4 linked regions of the Homo sapiens genome follow. The protein of the gene in region 3 purifies or fractionates together with the protein of the main gene of each other region. This does not show direct contact. Each region holds a gene or a part of one and is shown on either strand. Other genes may lie near its edges.

Region 1 (7,036 bases), on a different chromosome or scaffold from region 3:
ACCCCTTGCAAAACTAGGGAGTCCACCAGGGGCTGGCACAGTGGTATTGGGAATCGGAAACCACTGCTTTGGATGGAGGAAGTCTTAGAGTACCAGGATCAGGGACAGACACATGGTCTTGGTGGGTGTTAAAATTTGCAATGCAGTATTGGAATAAATGCAATACGCTTATACCTACTACCCTTTTCCATCTGCTTCTGGCAAGGCAGTGAGACTTCTTTTCATACTTTTTGGTATAAGCTATGTATACTACCTTCATGGCGCAGTGCAGGCAGTTTTTCCCCTTTATAAAGTACCTTCTTTTAGTTTTAAAAAATTTAAGCAATTTGGTCTTTCCTGCCTTCTCATTTCTTCAGAAATATGCCTGTTACAGGAGGTGAGGCAAATCTATTTGATTCTTCTGAAATAGTTTTGGAATTTTTGATATATGGAATTTTGGTAGTTTATGCTTCGTTTTTATCTTTTAATGGTGTATTTAATTTTTTTTCTGTTCTCGAATATACAGAAAAATGTATGCTCATCACTTAACCAGTTTTAATGTGTTGATAAATTGCTCCCCATTAAAGCCAGTTGAGATCACATTGTTTGGCATTCTTTTTTTTTTTTTCAATCACACAACTCATCTTAGTTTACTTTTTGTGTCATCTTTGTAGGACGTGCACGGTGGCTCACACCTATGATCCCAGCATTTTGTGAGGCTGAAGTTGGAGAATTTATTAAGGCCAGGAGTTAAAGGCTGCAGTGAGCTATGACTGCCACTGCATTCCAGCCTGGGTGACAGAACAGGACCCTGATTCTTTTTTTATTGAGAGGCAGTCTTGCTCTGTCGCTCAGGCTTGGAGTGCAGTGGCCCGATCTCAGCTCACTGCAACCTCTGCCTCCCGGATTCAAGCAGTTCTCCTCCCTCAGCCTCCCGGGTAGCTGGGATTACAGGCATGTGCCACCATGTCTGGCTAATGTTTGTAATTTTAGTAGAGACGGGTTTTCTCCGTGTTGGCCAGGCTGGTCTTGAACTCCTAACTTCAGGTGATCCGCCCGCCTTGGCCTCCCAAAGTGCTGGGATTACAGGTGTGAGCCACTGCGCCTGGCCTAGGACCCTGATTCTTTAAAAACAACAACAACAACAACAACAAAAATGGTCTTTGTAAAAATTTTTAAATGTCAAAAAAAATTGGCTTACCATCATGGCTGATAAATGAGGAATGCTGAAAGTTCAAGCTGTTGGTTTTATATATATATATATATATATATATATATATATATATATATATATAAAATTATATATAAATGTATATATATAAATAAATAAATACATATATATAAAATGATCTAAGTTTATCATTTATCTTTGGGAGTTAGTCACTGTTCAAGTCAGTTTCTAGGTTTTAAAAAATTTTTTTATAGAGACAGGGTCTCACTCTGTTGCCCCGGTCAGAGTGCAGTGGTGCGATCATAGCTCACTGTAACTTGAAACTCCTTGGCTCAAGCAATCCTCCTGTGTCAGCCTCCCAAGTAGCTGGGACTACAGGTGGGTGCCACCATGCCTGGCTCTCTCTACAAGACAGGATCTTGCTATGTTGCCCAGATTGGTATTGTTGGAAATCTTACTCACATTTACAGTTTACTTGGCCTCAAGTGATCCTTCTGCCTTGTCCTCCCAAAGTGCTGGGATTACAGGCATGAGCCACTGCACCTGGTCAAGTTCTAGTTATTTTGTTGTTTCCTACATTGCCTTTTCTCAAATTAATCTGCTTCTTGGTATATTATTATAGCTTCAAGGTTTTTTTCTTTCTAAAATATTCACTAATTCACATTTCAATACTAATGATTAGGATAAAGATGGTGATAGAGCAGTTCACCATGCAGCTTTTGGAGATGAAGGCGCTGTTATAGAAGTACTACATCGAGGTAGTGCTGATTTGAATGCTCGAAACAAGCGCCGACAGACACCACTTCATATTGCTGTCAATAAAGGTCATCTTCAAGTTGTGAAGACTTTATTGGACTTTGGCTGTCATCCCAGTCTCCAGGTAAAACCTTTAAAGAAACACATCCTGCAGGTATTGCTAGGATCCTATTAAAGGGAAACATTAAGTTCTATGGTAAGCATTCCTTTGTTACCGTTCTCATATGTCATAGTAAATGATACCAAAGGCGTAAGATGTTACAAAATTGGCAGCTATTTCTTTTTTAAAAAGTTGTTTTTTTTTAGGGAAAATGCCAATAGATTGGGTTTTGATTGGGCAGGGAGAATGAGGACTTCTTTGTAAAAATATCAGCTTATGAATGGATTTAACTTTATTGATCATGACAGTGAGCTCAACAGCTTAAAGAAGTGTAATAGGCTATATTTCATAATAGTTACTTCATAACTATTTAAATTATTTTAATTGTAGCTTTTATTGTAGCTTAGGGACTTTGAATAGTCGTTAGTGTAATCTTCGGAGATTTCTGTTTTGGAAAATGTATAGGATTTTAGAGTTGATTTACAGTAGGATCTAATTTTTGAAGCAATGATTGCCTAAGAAATGATTATCCCCAGCTACAGTTTTATAACCAGATAAATTAAACCACAAATATATAGAAAATGTAGTCTGTGTCCATTTTCTGCTTAGTTTGGTTACTAAGCAACTTGTCTTTTGTGCACCTGTTTGATTAAAGTTTCTATACTTAGTAATTTTGTAGCTCCTGAATCTAATTTGCCAACTTTTAGGTTCCTTAACCGAATAGGCTTGAAACAACATATTATTTTTAAATAAAAGTGTTCCCTGAAATACTATTTGAATATGTAAAACATAATTTGTTTCCATTGGAAACTCAATAATGATTTTTTAAAAAGTAGGGCAGTGGTTAGAATCATAAGCTGCTTGTAGTTTAGATAATTTACAGCATCCAGGAATTGGTTGCTGGATTGGATAGATCTCAGAGAAGAAATAAAGAACAGTAGTAGTGGGAATGAGGGCTTGAGAAGAACTGAAAGAATAGATTTTGTTCAGCTAGATAATTATTAGAAATTAAGGTTTTTGAAGTGCAGCTGTTTTGGAACTGTTGGGATCTAGAGTATGTCCTTGTAAGTGGGAGGCAGGATTGGAGGATGAGGGAAGAATTGGGGGGGTGTTAATCTGTAAGGAGAGGTGATTTATACCTGCTGACGTTTTTTGTCTGAAATGGGAGACAAGTTCATCTGTTGAGAGTGGTGGGTAGAGAAAGAGTAATTGAGAAGAGTGATAAGGACTTGGGGACCTGCAGAAGGGTGTTCCAATCATGTTAGAAGCCCGTTTCAGGTTGAACACTACAGATTTTTAGTGCCGCCAGATACAGGAGTAGAAGGTAGATGGTAGATGGTTGGATTGAACTTGGGTTAGGAATTCTTTTTTTTTTTTTTTTTTTTTTTTTGAGGCAGGGTCTTGCTCTGTTGCCCAGGCTGGAATTCAGTGGCGTGATCATGGCTCATTGCAGTCTCAACCTTCAGGGCCCACCTCAGCCTCCCGAGTAGCTGGGACTACAGGTGTGAGCTGCCATGCCTGGCTAATTTTTTGTAGAAATGCCCAGGTTGGTCTCAAACTTCTGGTCTCAAGCAATCTTCCTGCTCCCACCTCCCAAAGTCCTGGGATTACCGGTGTGAGCCACCATGCCTAGCAGGAATTCTTTATGTAGGTGGATGAATATATTCCTGGGATTAGCAAACATTTTCTATATTGGGCACAGATAATAGTGGCTTATTGGCTTTTGCCACAACTATCTAACTCTCATTGCAGAATGAAAGCAGCCATAGATAATACATAAATGAATGGGTGTGGCTGTGTTCCAATAAAACTTAATTTACAAAAACAGGTGGCTCCAATGTGTAATATCCTGGGATATCATTTTTTCTAGGCTTTGTCCACATGGCTTAGGGGAGCATAGGGCTCTGCCCCATGATGTACAGTCCCTTTCCTCAGTGTTGGAGATGAAGCTGGGTCTGGTGTTTGCACTTTCATATTCCTGTAGCTTCTCAGAATCCTGTGGACAGTGACTGGGGAGACAAACCATGCAGGAAATATGTCTAGTAAAAAAGAATAAAACAAACAAAAAACAAGTGGCAAACTGAATTTGGCAACTGTAGTATATGCTGTAGGCCAGGTTGTATATGACTTTACTGAGAATAGCATCTGTTCAACTATGAAATGAATGAAATTTAAATTATTCATGTCTGTACATGACTGCTAATGAATAAAAACTTACTGCTAAGTCAATTGATTAATGTAAAAAGTAGTCAGCTTGAAAAAATGGTAGACTGAGATTGCTAAATTTTAATTTACAATTGTTTTACCTTTGGCTAACTAGCCACTTTGCTGCCCTTTGAAAACGCTTAGATTAATGTTTCTCACCTGTGACTGCACAAGATGTTCATCTGTGGAGCTTTGAAAAATTACTCATGCCTCACTCTCACCTCTAGAGATTTAGTATGGTGAACAGCCTGGACATCAGATTTTTTTTTCTCTTTTTTTTCCTCTGTACAACAGATTTTAAAAGATCTCCCCAGCAGGTTCTAATGAGCAGCCAAGTTTGAAAGCCACCGACTTTCAATTCATTGTTATGGTGTAGGTTTGGTATGGAATTTCAGGGTATGACAATTAAGGCCATTTTAAACTTATAAAATTTGGGGGGCAGCTTTATCACTTCACTGGTTTTTGTCATTAGTTATATTTGAGGCTACTTCTTTTCTTTTCTTTTTGCTTTGTAAAGCTTCAGCATGTGCCAGGAGTGGTGGCTTATGCCTGTAATCCCAACACCTTGAGAGGCTCATGTGGGAGGATCACTTGAGCACAGGAGTTCAAGACCAGCATGGGCAACATACTGAGACCCCCATCTCTACAAAAAAAGAACTTTGCCGGGCAAGGTGGCTCACGCCTGTAATCCCAGCACTGTGGGAGGCTGAGGTGGGCAGATCACGAGGTCAGGAGTCTGAGACCAGCCTGGCCAACGTGGTGAAACCCCGTCTCTACTAAAAATACAAAAATTAGCTGGGCATGGTGGTGGGTGCCTGTAATCCCAGTTACTTGGGAGGCTGAGGCAGGAGAATCGCTTGAAACCGGAAAGTGGAGGTTGCAGTGAGCTGAGATCGCGCTATTGTACTCCAGCCTGAGTGAAAGAGCGAAACTTGGTCTCAAAAAAAAGAAAAAAAAATTCCAGCATGCTTATTTTGTTTTCCAACTAGATTTGAGTATGTCTTTCCTTACTATAATGTGGCCAGTGTTTCTTGCCTGTATTTTTGTTTTTTATATTTTTGGAGATAGAGTCTCGCTCTGTCACCCTGGCTGGAGTGCAGTGGCATGATCATAGCTCACTGGAGCCTTGAACTCCTGGGCTCAAGCCATTCTTCTGCCTCAGCCTCCTGAGTACCTAGGACTATAGGTGCACACCGCCGTGCCCGGCTAATTTTTAAAATTTTTTGTAGGGACAAGGTCTCTATATGTTGCCCAGGTTGGTGTTGAACTCCTGGCCTCTGCTGATCCTCCCGCCTCAGCCTCCCAAAGTGCTAGGGTTACAGACATGAGCCAGCATGCCCAGCCTTTGCCTATATTTTTGTAGTTATCACAGAAAGTGCTCTTTTATTGGTATTTGTTGGATGTGGTCTCTGCTTCTGTTTGCTTAGCATTTGGTGTAAGTATTACTATTAGATGGGATAATTAATTGAAGAACTAATGAAAATTTCTTTAAACTTAAAGGATTCTGAAGGTGATACCCCTCTTCATGATGCAATAAGTAAGAAACGTGATGATATCCTAGCAGTTCTTTTGGAAGCTGGAGCAGATGTTACCATCACAAACAATAATGGATTTAATGCTCTGCATCATGCTGCACTAAGGGGAAATCCCAGGTATGTCACCCCTTACTATTTTAGGTGCAATTCAAAAATATTTTCCTACTGTTGATTCTCTTTTTCTGATACTGATGAAGAAATAATTTTGGCTATTTTAGTATTTTAAATCATTTTAAAGTTTTGTGAATATTATGCCTTTAGTTTTATATGATGATTATTTGGTTGTTAATCTAATACAAATATTATGAAATGATTATTTAAGTTTATATTAAATGTGGTTGTAAAATATCAGGAATACTAGTTTCTTTCTAAAGATTTAATTAAAATGCATTTTATTTTGAGATTTATGTTTCTTCAAAATAATTATCTGGGTGTCCTCTAATTTCATGTTGCCATTTGCACGATAATTATTTTTTAAAACTTAAGACTAAATAAATACTAAGTTACCTAATTCCTTATTAATAATGTAATTAGTTATATAAACTTCTAGTATAGCTATCCCCTCATCCATTGTTACAGCAATAGTATTCTACTGAAAAAAGTATTTGCTGGTTGACATTTGAGAAAGACTCCTTTTGGAGAATCACATTCTTTATGAAGGATCTGCGGTGTCCCACAGAATGGGAAAATGCTTAGCTTTGCTTAATTTAGAGATTTCCATTAACTCACTTTTTGGAACAACTTTACCCTAAGCATTTTAGGAAATTCTGCATTGGATGTCTTCTGTTTATGTTTGAGTCAAACCTGTATACCTGGACTAAGAAAAATCTTCACTTTGATTTTTATTTTGATAATTTTATCTATTCTGAACACTTATTCTTTGGTTCCTTATTGTATTTTTATATCATGTTTCCTTTAGCTTCTTAGGATCACCACTAGAGGGTGACCACAGGAAACAAAAGGATTTTATTGCTACTGCTTATTGGTAACTGTAACAGTGGGTATATATTGTAGGACAAAATGAATGATCATATTTTAGATCACATCTTGATTTTTTTTCCAAATTGCAAATATTTGAACACTTCAGATTTTGGCATTGTGAAGAAGACAGTAGTATTATATTTCCCTGCCCTTCAAACAGAAGATTATGATAGCACTTTCCACATGCCAGCCTCTGCAAAGTGCTTCACATGCATCATCTCACTTAATCCTTTCAACAGCTTTTTGGGGCAGGTGTTAATATCCTCATTTTACACGTGAAGAATATGAGGCTTATAGAGATGAATTTAA
Region 2 (5,877 bases), on a different chromosome or scaffold from region 3:
ACCGAGATCGCACCATTGCACTCCAGCCTGGGCAACAAGAGAAACTCCAGCTCAAAAAAAAAAAAAAAAAAAAAAAAAGAAAGAAAGAAAAAGAAAACAGGAGGATTGGGCTATTTCCACATCAGGGTCCCATTTAATACCCCCTTAAAACATCAGCTTTCCTTCCAGAGACTGATCATTGAGAAAGCAGTACTGCTGACATAGATCCTGCCTACTTATAAATCATAATGGTTGGTAATCTCCATTAAAAAGAATAAATTTTCCCCACTGTGGTTCAGATGACGAGTTCCAGTTATTACAGAGAAATTTCATGGACAAGTACTACCTGGAGTTTGAAGACACAGAAGAGAATAAACTCATCTACACACCTATTTTTAATGAATACGTAAGTAGATTTCTATGTCTCCTACCAGGAGGTCAGAGTTTTTAAAAATTTAAATTTAGATTCAAAAGACATTGAAATTTGCTGCCTTTTAAAATATGCCACCAGTACACTTCCAGGAATCCTCATTAGCATCTGGTTTAAGTTCATTTTCCTCTGCACAGCCTTTGGGGCTATTTTCCAAAAGGCTTTCAGGCAAATATTTGATTAACTCATCAGCTTCTTATTTAAAAGAAGTTTGACCTGGGCTTGGTAGCACACCTGTAGTGCCAGCTATTTGGGAGGTTGAGGTGGAAGAATCACTTGAGCTTAGGAGTTTGAGACCAGCCTGGGCAACACAGCAAGATCTCTGTCTCTAAAAAAAAAATGATAATAATAAAGATAATAAATAAAAGACGTTTGGCTTATCATAATCCTGCTTTTAATCACAGTACATGAGTTCTTCATACCTTGCATTTGCATGCTTTTGACAAACCTTTCTGCTTTCACATACTCTTTCTTTCTTCTATATAATCCAGTCATATATGCATGACTATTAAGTAAAAGTGAAAACTGAGACCAAGATCACTAACTATTTGGTGGAAAAACCAAGACTGGAACCCAGGAACCTCAGCTCGTCACCCTTGGGTCTCTACACTTTACCCTGAGGCCTCTTAACAGCCCCCTGGGATTCTGTCATCTAAGAATCCATTTTGGCCTCCAGGACTTTATTTTCTTAACACAGAAGCATGGCATAAACAAACCTGCCCAGAAGGAACCTGTGACTGCCTCCATGTCCGTATGTTCTGTTACACAGATGCCCTCTACCCAGGAGGCAAAGCCCCCACTTACTGCATCCTGCACTGGGTTGTGGGTGTGGGTACCGTGCTACTCACTGTCTCCACCTGTGTCAGAGCATCCACCCTGTTACAGCACCATTATCAGCTAAGGCTTCTCTTCCACACCAGGCTGAGTACTTCTCCAGGACAGGAGCTGTGTTTTGGTCCTCTTTGGTATCCTTGGCACTCAGTGTAGATTGTGGCACACAGACCTCAGGAAATGTTTAGAAAGGGCTGGGCAGGCTTTCTGAAAAGAAGTCTTGTTTTCCCAAAGTATGGTCTCACCAAAATCCTTTCCACTGTTGCAGATTTCTTTGGTAGAAAAATACATTGAAGAACAGCTGCTGCAGCGGATTCCTGAGTTCAACATGGCAGCCTTCACCACAACATTACAGTGAGTTGAGCTTGACTGATTTTTGTGTTTTGTTTTGTTTTCTCACTTTCTTCCTTCCCTAGGCTGACCAAAAGACGCTCCTTGTTTGTTTTCCTGTGCATGCCGTTGGTGGTTAGGTCCTATGGAGGAAGCCCTCAAACCTTTTAATGAAATCTTGAAAAGATCAGGCATTGGCTCACGCTTGTGTTCTCAGTGCTTTGGGAGGCCAAGGGAGGAGGATCACTTGAGCCCAGGAGTTCAAGACCAGCCTGGGTGACATAGTGAGGCCCCGACCCTACAAAAAATAAATTAGTCAGGTGTGGTGTTGCATACCTGTGGGCCTAGCTACTCAGGAGGCTGAGGCTGGAGAATCCCTTGAGCCCAGCAGTTCAAGGCTACAGTGAGCTATAATTGCACCCCTGCACTCCTGCCTGGGTGACAGAGCAAGACCCAGTCTCTAAAAAAACAAAACAAAAATAATGCGGGGGGTGGGGCTGGGGTGGTGGAAAGAAAAACGAAAGCAATCTTGAGGACTGTCTCATCATTCATTCACGAAACAGCCATCTGTTCCGTTTGCAGGCACCATAAGGATGAAGTGGCTGGTGACATATTCGACATGCTGCTCACCTTCACAGATTTTCTGGCTTTTAAAGAAATGTTTTTGGACTACAGAGCAGTAAGTTACTACTCCTATTTATTTAGCCACTTTGAGCCACTTAGAAAATTCCAGGTAGAAATACCGAACATGAACCTCCCACGCTTCCCCCATCATTCTCCCTTCAAACTGGCCGATGAGGCATCAGAAGAGTGAGCTGCTATTCTGTTGTGGCTGGGACCTTCTCATGTTTTCATGAAACAAGCCCAGGTACCAACTTAGAGTTCCTAATCAGAAGGACAAAACCGAAAAAGCAGGTCTCAGGTCTCATTCTGCCTTGCCTTTCTTTTATTTATTTTTTTTTTTGAGACAGAGTTTTGCTCTTGTCACCCAGGCTGGAGTGCAGTGGCACCATCTTGGCTCACTGGAACCTCTGCCTTCCAGGTTCAAGCAATACTCCTGCCTCAGCCTCCCGAGTAGCTGATACTACAGGCACCTGCCACCACGCCCAGCTAATTCTTGTATTTTTAGTAGAGACAGGGTTTCACCATGTTGGCCAGGCTGGTCTCAAACTCCTGAAGCATGGTCCGCCTCGGCCTCCCAAAGTGTTGGGATTACAGGCGTGAGCCACCGCACCTGGCCCTGCCTTGCTTTTCATATAATGCAAGCTCTTTATAAGAAAAATAGGAGACTGGGCATGGTAACTCACACCTATAATCCCAGCACTTTGGGAGGCCGAGGCAGGCAGATGGCTTGAGCTCAGGAGTTTGAGACCAGCCAAGGCAACATGGCAAAACCCTGTCTCTATGAAAAATACAAAAATTAGCTTGGTGTGCTGGTGTGCATCTGTAGTCCCAGTCAGCTACTTTGGGGGCTGGGTGGGAGGACCGCTTGAGCCCAGAAGGTTGAGATTGCTGTGAGCTGTGATTGTACTGCTACAGTCCAGCCTGGGTGACAGAGTCAGACCCTGTGTCAAAAAAAAAAAAAGAAAAGAAAAAGAAATGGTGTTGGGTGTGGTTGTGCATGCCTGTAGTCCCAGCTACTTCGAAGGCTGAGGCAGGAGAATCACTTGAGCCTAGGAGTTTGGGGCTGTATTACACAGCAGTGGTGCCTGTGAATAGCCACTGCACTCCAGCCTGGGCAACATAGCAAGACCCCTATCTCAAAAAAAAAAAAAAAGAAAGAAAGAAAAATGTTTTCCAGTGAAGGGAGGTACATTTTAAGAGTGCATTTTAAGAATGACCAGGGCCAGGCTGGACACAGTGGCTCATACTTACAATTCCAGCGCTTTGGGAGGCCAAGGCAGGAGAATCACTTGAGCCCAGGAGTTCAAGACCAGCCTAAGTGACATATCAAGACCCTGTCTCTACAAAAATAAAAATAAAAAAGTTAGTCAGCTGTAGTGGTGCACACCTGTAGTCCTAGCTACTCAGGAGGCTGAGGCAGGAGGACCACTTGAGCCCAGGAATTCCAGGCAGCAGTTAGCTGTGATCAAGCCACTATACTCCAGCCTGGGTGACAGAGCAAGACCCTACCTCTTTAAAAATAATATTAAAAAAAATTAAGACTAGGGCAGGCCAGTATTGAGCAGAAATGCAGAATAACCAATAACCTGTGTTCCCTTCCTATGTACTCTGGAGGTCCACGTTCCCACCTTCAGCTCTGCCTTCCCCATGTCAGAGGCAAGATTCCAAGCCAGGGCTCTTTCTAGTCCTTCCTTTGGTTGTTTTCTCATATAGGAAAAAGAAGGCCGAGGACTGGACTTAAGCAGTGGCTTAGTGGTGACTTCATTGTGCAAATCATCTTCTCTGCCAGCTTCCCAGAACAATCTGCGGCACTAGGTCCTACCTCCAGCCAATGAATGGGATCATTCTGGATGTCACCAGCCCAATAGGCTCAGCTCATGATGACAGAACACATCTTGGAAAGACTGACTCTGTTATGTAACTCTTCATTTATGTTAAGTATTAATAGGTCAAAACCAAAATGACCTAACCCTCCTGGACCTATTTATCCTGAAACACCTTCTTGTATTCATTAACCATAGTACTCCTCCCCACCTCAAGTAGACACCTCTCTCAGGAGCTTCTGAGTCAGACGCCTCTGGAGCGAGCCCTATGTCAGGCACTCCACCTGGGGGGCCCTTCCCCAGCATACCTGCTGGTGTGTAAGTGTGGACTAACCCGCCGCCACCACCCTCTGTTCCAGCAGGCTCTGCATGAATCTTTGTGCACTTGCACCTCTTTTTCACATGGGCCACAGTTTCAGTACTTCAGCCTCAGTGGGGTTCCTGATGTTTATCTAGGGTGTTACTCAAGCCCAGTTTGAGATTTTGGAGTCTCCTGTGATCACATCTTGTCTCGGCTGTAGGAATCAACAGAAGGAGACGTCCTCTACATAAAAGCTCCATGTGAAAAGCTACTCCTAGTCTTAACATTTGCAGTCCTTGTGTCACTGTCTTCTGGTCCTGATGTAGTCCCACTGTTTCTAGAAGTCTCTTTTAAGCATTATTTTTGAAAAAAAAAATATTTTTATAGATGAATACTCAGGCTAACCTAGTGGATGTGATCTTGGAACTTCCATGATTATCCACTTAAAGATCAAAGTATTATATGCTGTGTGCTTTTTAGGTGTTTGTTAGTACTGTGAAGGCAAAAATGCTTTCTACATTGACATTCATTCCTATTTTACTGGGCACCTATGAATGTATGCTGTGTGCTAGAAATAGACTAAAACATATTCCTATAGCATGTTAGTGTGTTTGCATGTTTGCTGAAAATCCTTTGTGTATAAACCAGTTTGTAAGGTTCTCTGGGTTAGGTAGGGACTCTGCAGTTTCTTCCTGTCAAAATCTCTCCTACCAAGATGGTGTTCCACTGTCCAGCCCAGCATGAGTAGCAGGTAGAGCACAGCTTTACTGGCTGTTTGTATGCTTTGGTTTAGTGCAATGTGTGGTAGATTACTTATCAGAAAACATATATGTCATCTCTAGAACGAAGAAAAAGCATAGTAGTTCAATTCCCAGTGTGTCCCTTTGATTTTTTTTTTTTAATAGTAAAAATAAGAATCTGTACTGACTTTTCACTTGGCCATTCTGGTTTTAAAGGACAAGCTACAAGCTCTGTGTTTCTGTACTGATGTGTCACTTATTAAATACTTTTGTACCATGAGTAAAACTTCAGGTGTTTCGCAAGAACCACCATTCTCAATGAGTTGTATTCTTTCTTTAATGTAGCCACTGCCATAAGGTTATTAATTATTGCTTTGGTCTTTTTTTTTTTTTTTTAAATGCCACCTCTCCTGGGCTTGCTTTCCCTTGCTTTGTCTATAAATGGGAGGTCCACCACAGCCCAGGCATGCTGGGAGCACTTGCTAAGACCTGTGGACCAGCCTGCCTACTTGAGAAAAGGCCAGTGGACAAGTCCAGAGATTAAATGATGAAAAAACGATGATAAAGGCAAATTGGTTTTTCACCCTTTTTTTTTTCTTTTTTTTTTGGGAATGGAGTTTTGCTTTTGTTGCCCAGGCTGGAGTGCAATGGCACGATCTCGGCACACTGCAACCTCCACCTCCCGAGTTCCAGTGATTCTGCTGCCTCAGCCTCCCAAGCAGCCGGGATTATAGGTGTCCACAAACACGCCCAGCTAATTTTTGTATTTTTAGTAGAGACAGGGTTTCACCATGTTGGTCAGGCTGGTCTTGAACTCCT
Region 3 (7,000 bases):
CCTCAGCCTCCCAAATTACTGGTGTTACAAGTACATGCCACTGTGCTCAGCCTGACCAGGGATCTTAATGGAAAGGTATAACCAGTGTGAGAAGGAAGGTATTGGGGGGTAAGAGCATTCCAGGCAGTGCACAGCCCATGCAAAGGCCCTGGGGCAGGACTGTGCCTGGCGTGTTGGAGGAACAGCGAGGAGGCCCGTGTGGCTGGAGCAGAGTGAGGACAGGGAGAGAGGGAGGAAGGGTTGGGCAGGGCCTGTGAGCCTTGGGGTGGTGTGGGGAGGTGAAGGAAGTTAAGCAGTTTATGTTTTAATGTAAGTGTGATGGAAAATCAGAAAGCAGGGAAGAAATAGTCCAATTGAAGTTTTTGTTTTTGTTTTTGTTTTTGTTTTGAGATGGGGTCTCACTCTGTTGCCCAGGTGGGAGTGCAGTGGTGTGATCTCGGCTCATTGCAACCTCTGCCTCCCAGGTTCAAGTGATTCTTGTGGCTCAGCCTCTTGAGTAGCTGGGACTACAGGCACTCGCTACCACGCCCAGCTAATTTTTGTATTTTTGGTAGAGATGGGGTTTCACCAACATGGCCAGGCTGGTCTGGAACTCCTGACCTCAAGTGATCCACCTGCCTCAGTCTCCAATTTAAGTTTTAATAAAAAGACCTTGGTTGGGTGTGGTGGCTCATGCCTGTTATCCCAGCCCTTTGGGTGGCCAAGACTGGGTGATTGCTTGAGGCCAGGAGTTCAAGACCAGCCTGGGCAACATAGTGAGACCCATCTCTAAAAAACAAAAATGACTGGGCACGGTGGCTCACGCCTGTAATCCCAGCACTTTGGGAGGCCAAGGTGGGTGGATCATGAGGTCAGGAGTTCGAGACCCACCTGGCCGAGATGGCGAAACCCCGTCTCTACTAAAAATACAAAAAAAATTAGCCAGGCGCAGTGGCGCGCGCCTGCAGTCCCAGCTACTCGGGAGCCTGAGGCAGGAGAATCTCTTGAACCTGGGAGGCAGAGGTTGCAGTCAACCGAGATCGCGTCACTGCACTCTAGCCTGGGTGACAGAGCAAGACTCCTTCTCAAAACAAAACAAAACAAACAAACAAAAAAACACAAATGAACAACAAAAAAGTGCAAGCGGCTGGAATCAGAGGAGAGGGAAAGAGGAATGGAGGTTTTCGCCCCAGGAAATGTGTGAAGGGCAGCAGCCTTTGTCCTTAATTGGAAACACAGAGGGAGCTGCTGCCGGAGTAGAAAGTCTGCTTTTAGCTGTGAGAAGTCTGACGTGTCTGTTAGACCCCCGGAGAAGTTGAGGTTATGTGAAGTTCCTGGCATTTGAGATGCAATTGCAGAGGAGGGTAGAGACATGAGATCTGGAGAAGGGTATTAGGCAGCTGGAACAGCAGGTGCAAAGGCTCGAAGGCCAGATCCAGCCTTCCCATTGCGGAAACAGAGAAAGAAAAGTCCCCAGGCTAGAGCAAGAGGGAGGGAGCAAAGGCACTGCGGAGGGTGGAGATGAGAGAGGCCAGGCCAGGCTGGTATGTAGGGCAAGGTTTAGATTGTATCCTAGGGGCCCTCAGAGGATCCTTCCTTAATCCTCCAGCCCCCATCACGTTCTGAGTCTCGGAGGGAGATGGGCCTTATCTGACAGTAGAGAGACTGAAGTTTAGAGGGGCCCTGAGCTGGGGGGCAGGCAGCTGGGGATGACAGCAAGAGTGGGGTTCAGAGGGGAGGGAGGCCCAGATACTCACCCCAGATCTGCACCAGGAGGCCCAGCACCATGCCCGGGGACCCCATTCCTGGCCCATCACCCCCCTCTCCCCCTCCCAGTTGACAGACTTCCTGCCACAATCTCCGCCTCCCGCTGCAGAAGCAGATGCAACACCCAGGGCCAGACAACAGACGTCCGGTGTTCCAGCCTGCTGGGGGCTCCACTTCCTGCCACCTCGTGCCTCAGTTTCCCCAATGCATTTTCTATCTGAAAGGCAGTGTACGGACCAGGCAACATGGCTCATGTCTGTAATCCCAGCACTTTGGGAGGCCGAGGCAGGTGGATCACCTGAGGTCAGGAGTTCGAGACCAGCTTGGCCAACATGATGAAACCCCTACTAATTTCTACTAAAAATACAGAAATTAGCTGGACATGGTGATGGGCGCCTATAATCCCAGCTACTTGGGAGGCTGAGGCAGGAGAATGGCTTAAACCCGGGAGGCGGAGGTTGCAGTGAGCCAAGATCACGCCACTGCACTCCAGCCTGGGCGACAAGAGTGAAACTCCGTCTCAGAAAAAAAGAAAAGAAAGGCAGTGTATGCAAGTGAGTGGGAGGAATCCACCCCTGTGAGCTTTCTGGAAGGCTCTACATAAACACATCTAGGTACAGGAAGACACAGTGCGAGAGCAGGTGGCTCCGTGGGGGAGGGGCAGGCGACATAGGCCTGAGCAGTGAGTTAAATGACAGGGTCCCTGCCTCAATTATTTTGCTCCCAAAATGTCTTTCTTTTGCTGGGCGCTGTAGCTCACACCTGTAATCCCAGCACTTTGTGAGGCTGAGGTGGGAGGATCACTTGAGCCGAGTTTAAGATCAACCTGGGGTAACACAGCGAGATCCAATCTCTATTAAAAAAAAAAAAAAAAAAAAAAAGATACAGGCTGGGCATGGTGGCCCAGGCCTGTAATCCCAGCACTTTGGGAGGCCAAGGCGGGTGGATCACCTGAGGTCAGGAGTTCAAGACCAGCCTAGCCAACATGGCAAAACCCGGTCTCTACTAAAAATACAAAAATTAGCTGGGCCTAGTGGTGGGCGCCTGTAGTCCCAGCTACTCAGTGGGGTTGAGGCAGGAGAATCGCCAGAACTGGGGAGATGGAGATTACAGGGAGCCGAGATCCTGCCACTGCACTCCAGCCTGGGCGACAGAGTGAGACTGTGTCTCAAAAAAAAAAAAAAAGATACAAAACCAACCCAGGGTGATGGTGCATGCCTATAGTCCCAGCCACTCGGGAGGCTGAGGCAGGAGAACCGCTTGAGCCCAGGAGTTGGAGGCTGCAGTAAGCCATGATTGCGCCCCGTTACTCCAGCCTGGGCAACAGAGTGAGTCCGTCTCTAAAAAAAAATAATAATAATAATTTAAAAAATCTTCCTTTGAGGTTCAGAGAAATAGATTTCTGTTGATAACTTTGGGTCCTATTACATGACCTGCTTGGGGGTCCCGTGGAGGAGGTTCATGGGCTCTCGAGTTCCTCCCAGCCCTGCATCCCTCACCCCTGATTCTGTAGTGCATTCTGGGAGGAGGTGGCGAACCCACAGACCTCAATGTCTCAGACCCAACTGCAGAGTGACCTCCTTTCTCACTCGGACCTAGAAGGCCTGCATCGTACACAGCGTTCCCCTCCACCACAGGGAGGTTCTGCGGTGGCTATGCCTGCACCTCCCCTGCAGACACGTACACCCGCCCAGCCTCCCCTACCCACTCCTTCCCCTCCCCAGAACATTCTGAAGCTCCACCCTTCCCCCCACCGTCTGCTGAGGGACCCTGGATAGATTAGCCCCCAGGTCCTTCCAAAGCTGGACCCAGACATTCTTAGCTTCCGCACCTGGGCTGGCACGGAGACTTCTGGAGGAGCTGTTGGAGCCTGGGGCTTTGTGGGGTGTATAGGAGTTCAGTTGTGACATAGGGACAAATGGAAAGAAGGCACTGGAGGCTAAACACCCTCTTGGGCAAAAGCCTTAGATTTTCAGTAAATGCCAGGCGGGCTAGACAATTTGAGTAGCAACGGATAACCTGTGTGAGTGAACAAGTGGGGAAACTGAGGCACGGGAGCATTAGAGATGATTCTGAGGTCCCACGGCAGGGCCAGGGGTCGAGCCCCTTGTCTTCTCATCCAAGGCTCTCTCCAGCTCACATATCACCACCAACACCGCCCAGTGAGCCCCAGGCGCTGGATGTGAGGGCTCTGGGCGAGGCCAGCGCGGAACTACATTTCCCAGGCGGCCGCGGCGGGTGCGCCTGCGCAATGCGCGCGGTGATGGAGCGCTAACCGGGGGCGCGGCGGCGGCGAGGGCTCGGCGGGCCATTGGCTACCGGCCGCGGCAAAGGCAGCTTGGGGACCCAGCGTGCGCGGGGCCCGCGGGCCGGGCCGGGGTGACCTGGGCTGCAGCCATGGAAGAACAGAGGGTAGGACGGGGTGGGGCAGGGCGGGCCCGCAGGGGCGTCGGGGGCGGGGAAGGGGACCAGGTGTTGCCGCAGCGCCCCCACTCCCTCCCCGCCTCCACCCCAGCTGCTCTGCGGCTGAGGCCCCACCCCATTCGCGACCCCGCCCGGATCTAGCCCCCCTACCCCAGTTTGGGACGCAGCCCCCCCACATCTTGGCTTGGGGCCAGGCACGTGCCTTCTACGCCCCCCCACCCTGCCCAGTATCCCAGTCCCATCCCTGACCCCCATCCCCCACGCCCTCCCTCCTGGCCGCGGACCAGGCGTCCCGGCCCCCCGCCCCACCCCTGGAAGACGCCCCGCCAGCTCCGCAGTGCGGACCCCACCGACCCTGCCCCAGGAAAAAGGAGCAGGTTGGAGCCTGGGTCAGAGCAAGAGGCTCCCGAGCGGGATCCTCCCTCCCAGAATCCCCTGCCCTTCCCCAAGACCTCCCTGCCCCCTCCCCGCTTACCTGGCGCCCCCGCATCCCTGGCCCCCAGGTTCCACCTTTGCCCAGGTAATTTCTTTCTCCTTGCTTATCTTTCTCCCCCAGGTAGGCCCCACCCCTGTTCCGAGGCTAGCCCCTATCCCAGGCTATCCCACCTCCCTGGGGTTTTTCCTTCCACCGAGAACCCTTTCCCCAGGTTAGCCCATTTTCCAGCAGACATCCTTCTCCTCTGGGGTTTTCTGTCCTCAGGCTAGCCCCTCACGCCCCACCTTCAGGATGTAGGTATCGGGTTGTAGCCTTTGTGCTCAAGCACGCCTGGTTCGGGGCCAGGGTCTGTCCCTTCCTGAGAGGTTCTCTGTGAGCCTCAGTTTCCTCTCCTGTAATATGGGGTAGCTTAGGGCGCCCAGCTGCTATGGGTGAATTGTATCAGCCCGGAGCTTTACCTCCTGGCTGGTGCCCAAGCTCAATAGCGTGGCAGCCCCCACATCTCCTCTCTGGATCCCTGGAGGGGAGCGCGGGTCAGGGAGCCTGGCCAGGCTGACGGGCTCACCTGCCTGCCGTGTGTGTGTGCGCATGTGTGTGCATGTGTGTGCGCACGCGTGTGCATTTATGTACGTGTGTGCATGTGTGTGCACGTGTGTACATGTGCGTACACGTGTGTGTACCTGTGTGCGCACATGTGTGTGTGCACCTGTGTGTGTCCACACTTCTGGTGGTGCAGGAGGCCCTGAGGAAGATCATCAAAACACTGGCTGTGAAGAATGAAGAAATTCAGAGCTTTATCTACTCCCTGAAACAGATGCTGCTGAACGTGGAGGTGAAGGCGGTGGGGCAGTCCTGGGGAGGTAAGGGGAGGGGAGGAAGCTGGAGGGTGCAGCCTTAGGAACTGGCCCATTGCTGTTGATGCCTGTGGGAGGTCTCAGGTTCCCTCTCTGAACACGGGCTTTGGCCGATTCTGGCTGTTCCGACCCAGGCGAACTCGGCGAAGGTGCAGGAGGACCTCGAAGCAGAGTTCCAGTCCCTCTTCTCCCTCCTGGAGGAGCTGAAAGAAGGCATGCTTATGAAGATAAAACAGGACCGTGCCAGCCGTACCTACGAGCTGCAGGTGAGGGCTGAGGGCATCTTCCTCTCCCCCCGCCCCTCCTACTCAACAGAACGTAGCTGACCTCGGCACCTTCCTCCAAAAACTGGGTGCTCTCGAGTTTCTGATCTCTCCCCTGACCCCTCCATCCACCTGTACACTCTCTCTTTTTTTTTTTTGAGACGGAGGTCTCGCTCTGTCGCCCAGGCTGGAGTGCAGTGGCATGATATCGGCTCACTGCAACCTCCGCCTCCTGGGTTCAAGCAATTCTCCTACCTCAGCCTCCCAAGTAGCTGGGATTACAGGTACCCGCCATCATGCTGGGCTAATTTTCGTATTTTTAGTAGAGATGGGGTTTCACCGTGTGGGCCAAGCTGACCTCAGGTGATCCTCCTGCCTCAGCCTCCCAAAGTGCTGGGATGACAGGCATGAGCCCCCGCGCCTGGCCCATCTGTGCTCTCTCTGAATCCCCTCTCCATCACGGCGTCCCCGAGTCTGGCTCAGATCTTCCCCTCCTGTCTTCACTCAGTGCCTCCGGTTTCTCAGCCCTTCCCACTGGCCCCCCAGATCTGAAGGTATCACCTCCACTCAAACACCACCCATGGCTCCCGTGGGCTGTCACTCAGACTCCAAGCTGGAGTCACACAGGCTGCATCCAGACCTCCTGGGCAACTTCCTGACATCCCAGATTCCTGTCCCAGGGGGAATCTAGAGCCCTGGAGCTCGGATGTGGCCTAGGCATGTGAGTTTTTGGTTTGTTTTGTTTTGAGACAGAGTCTTATTCTGTCACCCAGGCTGGAGTCCAGTGGCGCAATCATGCCTCACTGCAGCGTCCGCCTCCCAGGCTTAAGCGATTCTCCCATCTTAGCCTCCCAAGTAGCTGGGACCACAGGAAGGTGCCACCACGCCCAGCTCATTTTTGTATTTTTTGGTGGAGACTGGTTTTCACCATGTTGCCTAGACTAGTCTTGAACTCATGGGCTCAAGCGATCCTCCTGCCTTGGCCTCCCAAATTGCTGGGATTACAGGCATGAGCCTCTGTGCCTGGCTCATGTGAGTTTTTTTTGTTTTGTTTTGTTTTTGAGATGGAGTCTCTCTCTGTGACCCAGGCTGGATCAGTTGCACAACCTCAGCTCACTGCAACCTCCGCCTCCCGGGTTCAAGTGATTCTCCTGCCTCAGCCTCCCGAGTAGCTGGGATTAGAGGTGCCCACCACCACACCCAGCTACTTTTTTCTATGTTTAGTGGAGACAGGGTTTCACTGTGTTGGCCAGGCTAGTCTTGAACTCCTGACCTCA
Region 4 (7,036 bases), on a different chromosome or scaffold from region 3:
GAGCCAGTGATGATGACTGTTAGCGGTGAGAGCTGGCACGTGAGGGAACGAGGACTCAAACTCTCGTGTGACTCCAGATCCCACACCATTGTCCATCACAGTCCACACCACTTTTCTTCCCCCTGCTTGCCTTAGATAAATCTAAGATCCCTTCAAACTTCCGGTACCTTCCAGTTGGGAAACAGGAGAGGCCCTGGTCATAGGATGCAGCACATGGTGGCCTGCTGGAATGCTGGGGGTACAAACAACGGGAAGGTGGCCGTGGACACCTCCATGCCTAGAAGCTGGTCAGGAAGCTGCCCTCATCACCACTCGAGTGCACAAGATGAGGAAGCGGCAGACGGACTGGGGAGGGGACTTCCTGAGGCCCCATCTGTTCCTCTTCCTCCACCGCACCACACTTCCCATCCAGTTTCCAACTTCCACACCCAACTCATTTCCCCAACATCCAGATGAGCAGTTTTGCATCAACATTTTTATTGAAATACAAAAAGTGCAAACGGTGAAATACATGATTGGTGCCAAGGAAGTCATTAAGTGTGAATGTGAACACTGGATTCACACAGTACAAGCACCCGCTCCCTGGGGTACAGACCAGTGGGGGACATGAGAAAGACCAAATAGATCCGAAAGGCTCCCCAGTGAATGGGGCTGTGAGCGACACTTGATACACAAAGGAGGGCGGAGAGCAGAGCAGCCCTGGCCGAGGCTAGAGACCAAGGGACTGATGAAGAACCAGCAGCAGCCCAGGCCCCAGGGGGCTGGATGCACTGCTGATGGTCTTGGGAGAGCCCAGCGAAGTTATGCCCAGGCCCAGCCTGGCTTGCGGATGGGGCTGGGCTGGTCAGTGAGGATCCCCACAGTACGGGCTCTGGAATCATCCTGCCTGGCCAAGGTCATGGGGGCAGGGTCACTGCAGGTACTTCCCTGTACTCCCCAAGGACAAGGCTGCAGGAAGAGGGATCCCCAGGAAGGAGTGTAATTCTACGAGACAGTGGGAGTGAGATCAGCCATCACTGGGGCCGAGGTTCTTTGAAAGACAACAGGGCTGGCCGGGTGCAGTGGCTCACGCCTGGAATCCCAGCACTTTGGGAGGCCGAGGTGGGTGGATCATGAGGTCAGGAGATCGAGACCATCCTGGCCAACATGGTGAAACCCCGTCTCTACTAAAAATACAAAAATTAGCTGGGCATGGTGGCATGCACCTATAGTCCCAGCTACTCAGGAGGCTGAGGCAGGAGAATTGCTTGAACCCAGAAGGCGGAGGTGTGCCGAGATCGCGCCACTGCACTCCAGCCTGGTGACAGAGCGAGACTCCATCTCAGAAAAAAAAAAAAAAAGGTGGCCCTAGAGCCCCTTAATCCCCTGGGGAAATTGCTAGAACCCACCTATCTGGACTGACCTATCAGCACAATCTCTGCCCCTCCTACGGGCACTCTTAGTCTCTACCCCAGCCCCTTTAAGAGTCCCCCAGCTGGAGGAAGGAGCCATAAGATCCTGAGGCACTGAGTCACCTCTGGCTGGGGCAGGGGCCAGTGTGACTCCGTAACAGACAGGTCCACAAGAACATGAAGGCTGATGATCTGCCCGTGTGGGAAAGGAGGCCAAGAGGGGAGAGGCTAACCTGGCCGGTCACTGATTCCATCACACGCTGTAGCTCTCGGGGGCGGGGAGGTGGAGAGGGAGGTTTCAAGTGGATGCTGGGACTCTGAGCCATGTCATCCAAGCTACCAGTCCCTGCACAACCAAGGGGTTAGGACACCCCAGGGGCAGTATCACTTGGGAAAGGCTGACCCAGGATGTGTGGAAGAGGAGGCAGAAAGCAGACACAGTCTCCAGCCCTGTCACTCCTCAGCAGGGGAAATACCCCAGACTGCGCTGCTGGGGGCAGTACAGGAGCAAGGGTGCTTGCACTCAGGCCTTCATGCAGTGGGGCTTCTGCAAAGCAGGGCAGCCTACCAGATAGGGAGGCACCTCAGCTTGGGGCGGTGTCCACACCAAAGAGCTCAGCTGCTCATTCCCAGCAATCAAGAGGGGAGGACTGGCCCCTGCTACCAGCCCAGCCGGCAGTCATTTGATTCATCCACACTTGCTAGGGAAACAGAGGCAGGAAAAAGCAGGAAAGGGGTTACTGGGGCTCAGTCCTTCTCCAGCTGGAAGAGCCAAGCCCAGCTCTGGAGAGCCCAGCAAAAGCCCGGTGTCCAGAGAGGCAGTGAGAAGTGTAAGGCAGAGAAAAACGTCTTCTGGTAACAGCGAGGCCGCCAGGGCCGTGAGGCGGGCTGGACAGAGGTGGGGGAGAGCATGCCTGATGGGTGGCTCCAACATCTCTCTCCAGGGGGCTTCATGGCCCCTGATGCCAGGAGGAAGAGTCCAAACCCGGGCTACCAGAGAAGGGGCTGGTGGGGCAGGGGCCAGGTTCAGAGCCCGCTGGGGTCCGGGCTTGGGAACAGCTCCCCTTGGTGATCCAGAAGGAACTTGGTGAAGGTGTTGATGGGATTAATGGCCTTGAGGGTGATGGCCGCATCCTTGGCCCACAGCAGGTTAGGGCCGAAAACAACAGCCAGGTTAGTGTTGGTCATCTTGTTCTGGTCACTGTGTGCAGAAATCTGTGGAGGGAATCAGGGACTGCAGCAGGAAGCCACAGATGCTGCCTCCCACTCCCAGCAACAATGACCAGGGCGCAGAGGAGGCGGCAGCTCCTCCTTCCCCCTCCCTTCACCCCAGAGGCCAAGTCCAAGGTCTCACCTGCACCAGGAAAGCAGTCAGGAAACGAAGCACCTGGTAGTTCTCCTCGGGCAGCGTCTGGAGGACCTGCAGTGTCGCTGGCACCCTCTGGCTTTCATCAATGTCTATGAGGAAAGGAGGCCCGGGTTATAGGGGCCCTAGGCTGGGCTGGTTCAGGACGCTCTGATGCAGGCTAGAGGGGAGACCCCCAGCAGTCTTCCCTGGGAGGCGCCTAGGCCCGAAAGCCTGCAGCGCACCTGCCCCAAGTCCAGCCCCAGGCCCAACAGAAGAGATGGGGACTCACTGAGGAAGCCCACCACATGGGGGTAGAGGTCAAAGGTGAGCAGGGGCTCAGGAAGCTCCCGGAGGAAGGTCTTGAGGATGACTGCTGGCAGGTGCAGCTCATTGTACTGGTCGAAATCCACAGGCAGCCCTGGGGTGGGGGCAGCGTGAGAGAAGCTCGGCACAGCCTGAAGGGCAGCACCCATCTGCAGACAACGCGGGCCGCACTGCCTGACTGCCCCTGGACACTGCATAAGCCCCTCCTCCCAGGGGCGCCCTCTGACACCTGCCTCCCTCTTCCTCTGTGATCAGAGAATGCAGGTTCCGGCCATCTGGGGAAGTGGGGCCCGGCACACCCCACCGTTATTCCTTGCCTCTGAATGTGCCTATACCCAGGACCCGGGAGCCCGACCGATGAGGCAGCAGGCCTGGCAGAAGTAGGACTTATGTGACACCCAGAGCCACGGAAACCTCCAGCAGGAAGAGACTCTGAGACTCTCATTTACAGGGCAGCAGAGGGCAGAGAAGCCCCCTACCAGTAACACACATATGGCCCTGCAACAGCCCAGGGCTGCTCACCCATGTTGTACTTCTGCTGCACTTCCCGGACCACTTGGGTGTTGGCCGACCTCCGGAAGATGCCCTCGGTGGTGAGAGCTGGGAAACAGTAGGGCCTGGTGAGCCTCCGAGCGCTGGGCACCGGCTGGATTCCCTGCCCCTTCTCTGTCTTGGGGTTCTAGGCAGGGCTGGGTGGGGACGTTGAGGCTTGCAGGACCTCCCTCTGCCCTGCCCAGCAGCTTCCCCAGCTTCCTGAAGGGAGCCGGGAGACCTGGCTGGTGAGGAGGCAGGCCCGGCACTCACCGTGGGCCTGTAAGTAGGCAACAGTCTCCCTGAGTACAATGGGAATGGGCTCCTGCTCTGGATTCTTCTCCTGGAGGCTGCGGGAAAAAGGCTGGTGAGCCGGGCCTGCAGCCCTTCCCGCCCCGCCGTGGCCCAGCCACCTTTCATACTTACTGCTGCAGCGAGACTCCAAACTGCTGGTTGGGCAGGGGGGGCCGTGGGGGCATGGGCTTGGGGGCTGTCGCGGGGCTCTTCTGTGTGGATTTCAGGAAGTCGTCATATCTGTAGGAGTAGAGGGAGGTGGGTCAGGTCCTGCCTGGCTCTGGAGTCACTCTGCCAATTCAATCAAGCATTGACCACGCGGGGTCAGGAGGATCATCTCATGCGATCTCTGTAACAACTCCGCTTTCCACAGCAGAAAGCAAAGACCTGGGAGAGGTCGGGACACGGGCTTGCTCTGCCTAAGCCCCACGCGGTCTCTGAATCAGGACACACGTCCTCATTACCCTGGCTTCACGAGCCCCCAGCCGCCGCACCCGCCTCACTTGAGCACTTGGCGAGGGATCCCCAGCTGCTCCAGCTTCACGTGCTCGCTCAGCTCGCTCAGGTAATTCACATAGAAGATCTTCTGCCCGAACTTGAAGCTGTTGGTGGAAGAAAGGGCCTGGGTTGTGGGGGCCCGCTTCCGGTGGCCTCCACTCTCCCCTCAACACCCACCCAGTTCAGACGGAAGCCCAGCCGCACCTGGTGGTCCCCAGGCTGCCCAGCCTCCCAGCTTCAGAGTTCCAGGCAAGCCGGGACCACCAGCCCTGCCCGTGGCCACTCACCTGATGAGGGGCTTGAAGAGGATGAGCAGAGTTTTGATGAACATGGTTGGATGCACGATGTACAAGGCCTTGATGTTTTTCTTGTACCTGCAGAGACAGAATGGACAACTCAGGAGCAGGCGTGGTGGGACAGGTGCCACGCTAGGGTCCCAGTGCATACTTTTTTTTTTTGAGACAGAGTCTCCTTCACCCAGGCTGGAGTGTGATCTCAGCTCATTGCAGCCTCCACCTCCCGGATTCAAGCTATTCTCCTGCCTCAGCCTCCTGAGTAACTAGGATTACAGGCACCCACCACCACACCTAGCTAATTTTTGTATTTTTAGCGGAGACAGGGTTTCACCATGTTGGCCAGGCTGGTCTGGAACTCCTGACCTCAAGTGATCCATCCGCCTCAGCTTCCCAAAGTGCTGGGATTACAGGTGTGAGCCACCACACCCTGCCTCAGTGCATATTTTCTGATTTGAACATGCATGGCCAGCATGCGAGGTAAGGGCCATCACTGTCTCATTTTACAGATTAGAAAACAGGAGGCTCAAAGAGGTTAAGTAAAACAAGAGGTCAGAGTGCAAATAAGCTGAGAAACTGGGCCTTACTTAAGCCCAGGGTGATCTGACTGCAGATTCTTTACATTGACGTAGACGGCAGCCCCCGCCACCCCCTGCCTTGGAATAAGCTCCTGCCCAAGTGGAGGGCAGCCCGGAAGCTGGCAGAGCCGCTGCCTCTGGATCTGACTGTGCAGGCCCCATGCCCCAACCCACTTGCGGTCAAACTCCCGGTAGGCATCACGGAGCCAGCTGAGGGAGGGCTTGTTGTCGCTGGTCAGGCCGTGGTGCAGATACAGAAGTGTGTAGTCACTCTCCACGTACTGGTCCAGGGTGTGCTTCAGGTACCTTCCAGGGAAAAGCCCTGCTCAGGCCTGCCCTGTGCACAGGGGCGGCCCCACGAAGACAGAAAGCAGCCCCAAGAGTCTCCCACCACGTCACAGCCCCTTCCCCACAGGCCCTCCCCTAGCACAGTCTGTTCTGGCTCATAATCAGTCACCAGGTTGCTGTGGAGGAGGCCTAGGGTAGAGGCTGGGCAGAGGAATGAGAATAGTAATAACAGCTCTCAGCCGGGCGCAGTGGCTCATGCCTGTAATCCCAACACTTTGGGAGGCCAAGGCGGGTGGATCACCTGAGGTCAGGAGTTCAAGACCAGCCTGGCCAACATGGTGAAACCCCATCTCTACTAAAAATGCAAAAATTAGCCGAGCATGGTGGTGCAGGCCTGTAATCCCAGCTACTCAGGAGGCTGAGGCAGGAGAATCGCTTGAACCCAGGAGGCGGAGGTTTCAGTGAGCAGAGATTGTGGCACTGTACTCCAGCCTGGGCAACAAGAGTGAAACTCTGTCTCAATAATAGTAATAATAATAACAGTTCTCACTCTTGAGCAGGAACTAGATGTCAGGAGACCAGGACCCTAACCCGGGCCTGCCTAGGCCTGCAGTGAAAAGGGGAATGACGTTTCCCCTGAATCAGGGATTTCTCTGAATCAATAATAATGATGACAGTCACCATTTCTCAATATTAAGTTTTTAGTGTCTGCCAAGCACTTCACATACATTAGCTCATACATTGCTTATAACTGAGGCTGATGTAATCCCCATCCTACAAATGAAGGCAATGACCAGAGAGGTCAAGTGCTGATCCAAGGTCACACAGCTTGTGGTAGATCCTGGAAGTGAAGTGTCTAACACCAAAGCCTGCTTTTTTTTTTTTTTTTTTTTTGAGACAGGGTCTTACTGTCACCCAGGCTGGGGCACCGTAGCGCAATCACAGCTCACCGCAGCCTTGACCTCCCAGGCTTAAGCTATCCTCCTGCCTCAGCCTCCTGAGTAGTAGGAACCGCAGGTGTGAGCCACCACACCCGGCTCTTTTTTCTACTTTTTATTTTGTAGAGACAGGTCTCACTATGTTGCCCAGGCTGGTCTTGAGTTCCTGGCCTCAAGCAATCCTCCCACCTCAGCCTCCCAAAGTGCTGGGAGATTACAGGCATGAGTCACTGCACCTGGCCGAAAGCCTGCATTCTTGACCATGGGACAGCTTTGCCTTCTACACATGAACTCCAGTGCCGGCGGTAAAACACTGTGCCCATGAGAGGGGATGGGGTGGCCAGAGAGTCACCTGCTCCAGTCACTGGGCCTTTAGTGGACCAAAGAGCCCCAATTCCTCTGGTTCCCTATTATGCTCATGACACGCTATCTACCAGCTCAGCACAAACATATACACACCTGGTGTTGAGCACACTGAGAGTTATGGATGGAATGAACAAGAACTGGGGAAAGGGAAGGGAGTGTGTGTAAAGCCCTCTCCTTTTTTTTTTTT

Evidence for each region.
Region 1: the proteins of FSD1 (region 3) and MIB1 purify together in Homo sapiens (affinity purification with mass spectrometry; 3 studies listed by BioGRID and IntAct, with this or other methods). This does not show direct contact.
Region 2: the proteins of FSD1 (region 3) and ARL2BP purify together in Homo sapiens (affinity purification with mass spectrometry; 3 studies listed by BioGRID and IntAct, with this or other methods). This does not show direct contact.
Region 4: the proteins of FSD1 (region 3) and ARHGAP1 purify together in Homo sapiens (affinity purification with mass spectrometry; 3 studies listed by BioGRID and IntAct, with this or other methods). This does not show direct contact.

The regions. Positions count from the first base shown.
Region 1 is NC_000018.10:21,813,784-21,820,819, forward strand, and holds part of MIB1 (E3 ubiquitin-protein ligase MIB1), read left to right. Parts: exon of another isoform or gene 1-112; coding exon of another isoform or gene 113-121; intron 122-1,832; coding exon 1,833-2,030; intron 2,031-3,840; exon of another isoform or gene 3,841-4,045; intron 4,046-5,711; coding exon 5,712-5,863; intron 5,864-7,036. UniProt on the Homo sapiens protein: E3 ubiquitin-protein ligase that mediates ubiquitination of Delta receptors, which act as ligands of Notch proteins.
Region 2 is NC_000016.10:57,248,259-57,254,135, forward strand, and holds the end of ARL2BP (ADP-ribosylation factor-like protein 2-binding protein), read left to right. Parts: exon of another isoform or gene 1-278; coding exon 279-385; exon of another isoform or gene 386-1,508; coding exon 1,509-1,594; exon of another isoform or gene 1,595-1,713; intron 1,714-2,152; coding exon 2,153-2,249; intron 2,250-3,445; exon of another isoform or gene 3,446-3,534; intron 3,535-3,907; coding exon 3,908-4,009; 3' UTR 4,010-5,377; downstream 5,378-5,877. UniProt on the Homo sapiens protein: Together with ARL2, plays a role in the nuclear translocation, retention and transcriptional activity of STAT3. May play a role as an effector of ARL2.
Region 3 is NC_000019.10:4,300,604-4,307,603, forward strand, and holds the start of FSD1 (fibronectin type III and SPRY domain-containing protein 1), read left to right. Parts: upstream 1-3,994; 5' UTR 3,995-4,143; coding exon 4,144-4,158; intron 4,159-5,342; coding exon 5,343-5,438; intron 5,439-5,594; coding exon 5,595-5,726; intron 5,727-7,000. Other genes in the region: TMIGD2 (transmembrane and immunoglobulin domain-containing protein 2 isoform 1 precursor), read right to left, coding at 1,737-1,782. UniProt on the Homo sapiens protein: May be involved in microtubule organization and stabilization.
Region 4 is NC_000011.10:46,676,620-46,683,655, forward strand, and holds the end of ARHGAP1 (rho GTPase-activating protein 1), read right to left. Parts: intron 5,564-7,036; coding exon 5,432-5,563; intron 4,761-5,431; coding exon 4,674-4,760; intron 4,491-4,673; coding exon 4,392-4,490; intron 4,129-4,391; coding exon 4,021-4,128; intron 3,945-4,020; coding exon 3,868-3,944; intron 3,664-3,867; coding exon 3,586-3,663; intron 3,158-3,585; coding exon 3,029-3,157; intron 2,850-3,028; coding exon 2,746-2,849; intron 2,607-2,745; coding exon 2,418-2,606; 3' UTR 461-2,417; downstream 1-460. UniProt on the Homo sapiens protein: GTPase activator for the Rho, Rac and Cdc42 proteins, converting them to the putatively inactive GDP-bound state. Cdc42 seems to be the preferred substrate.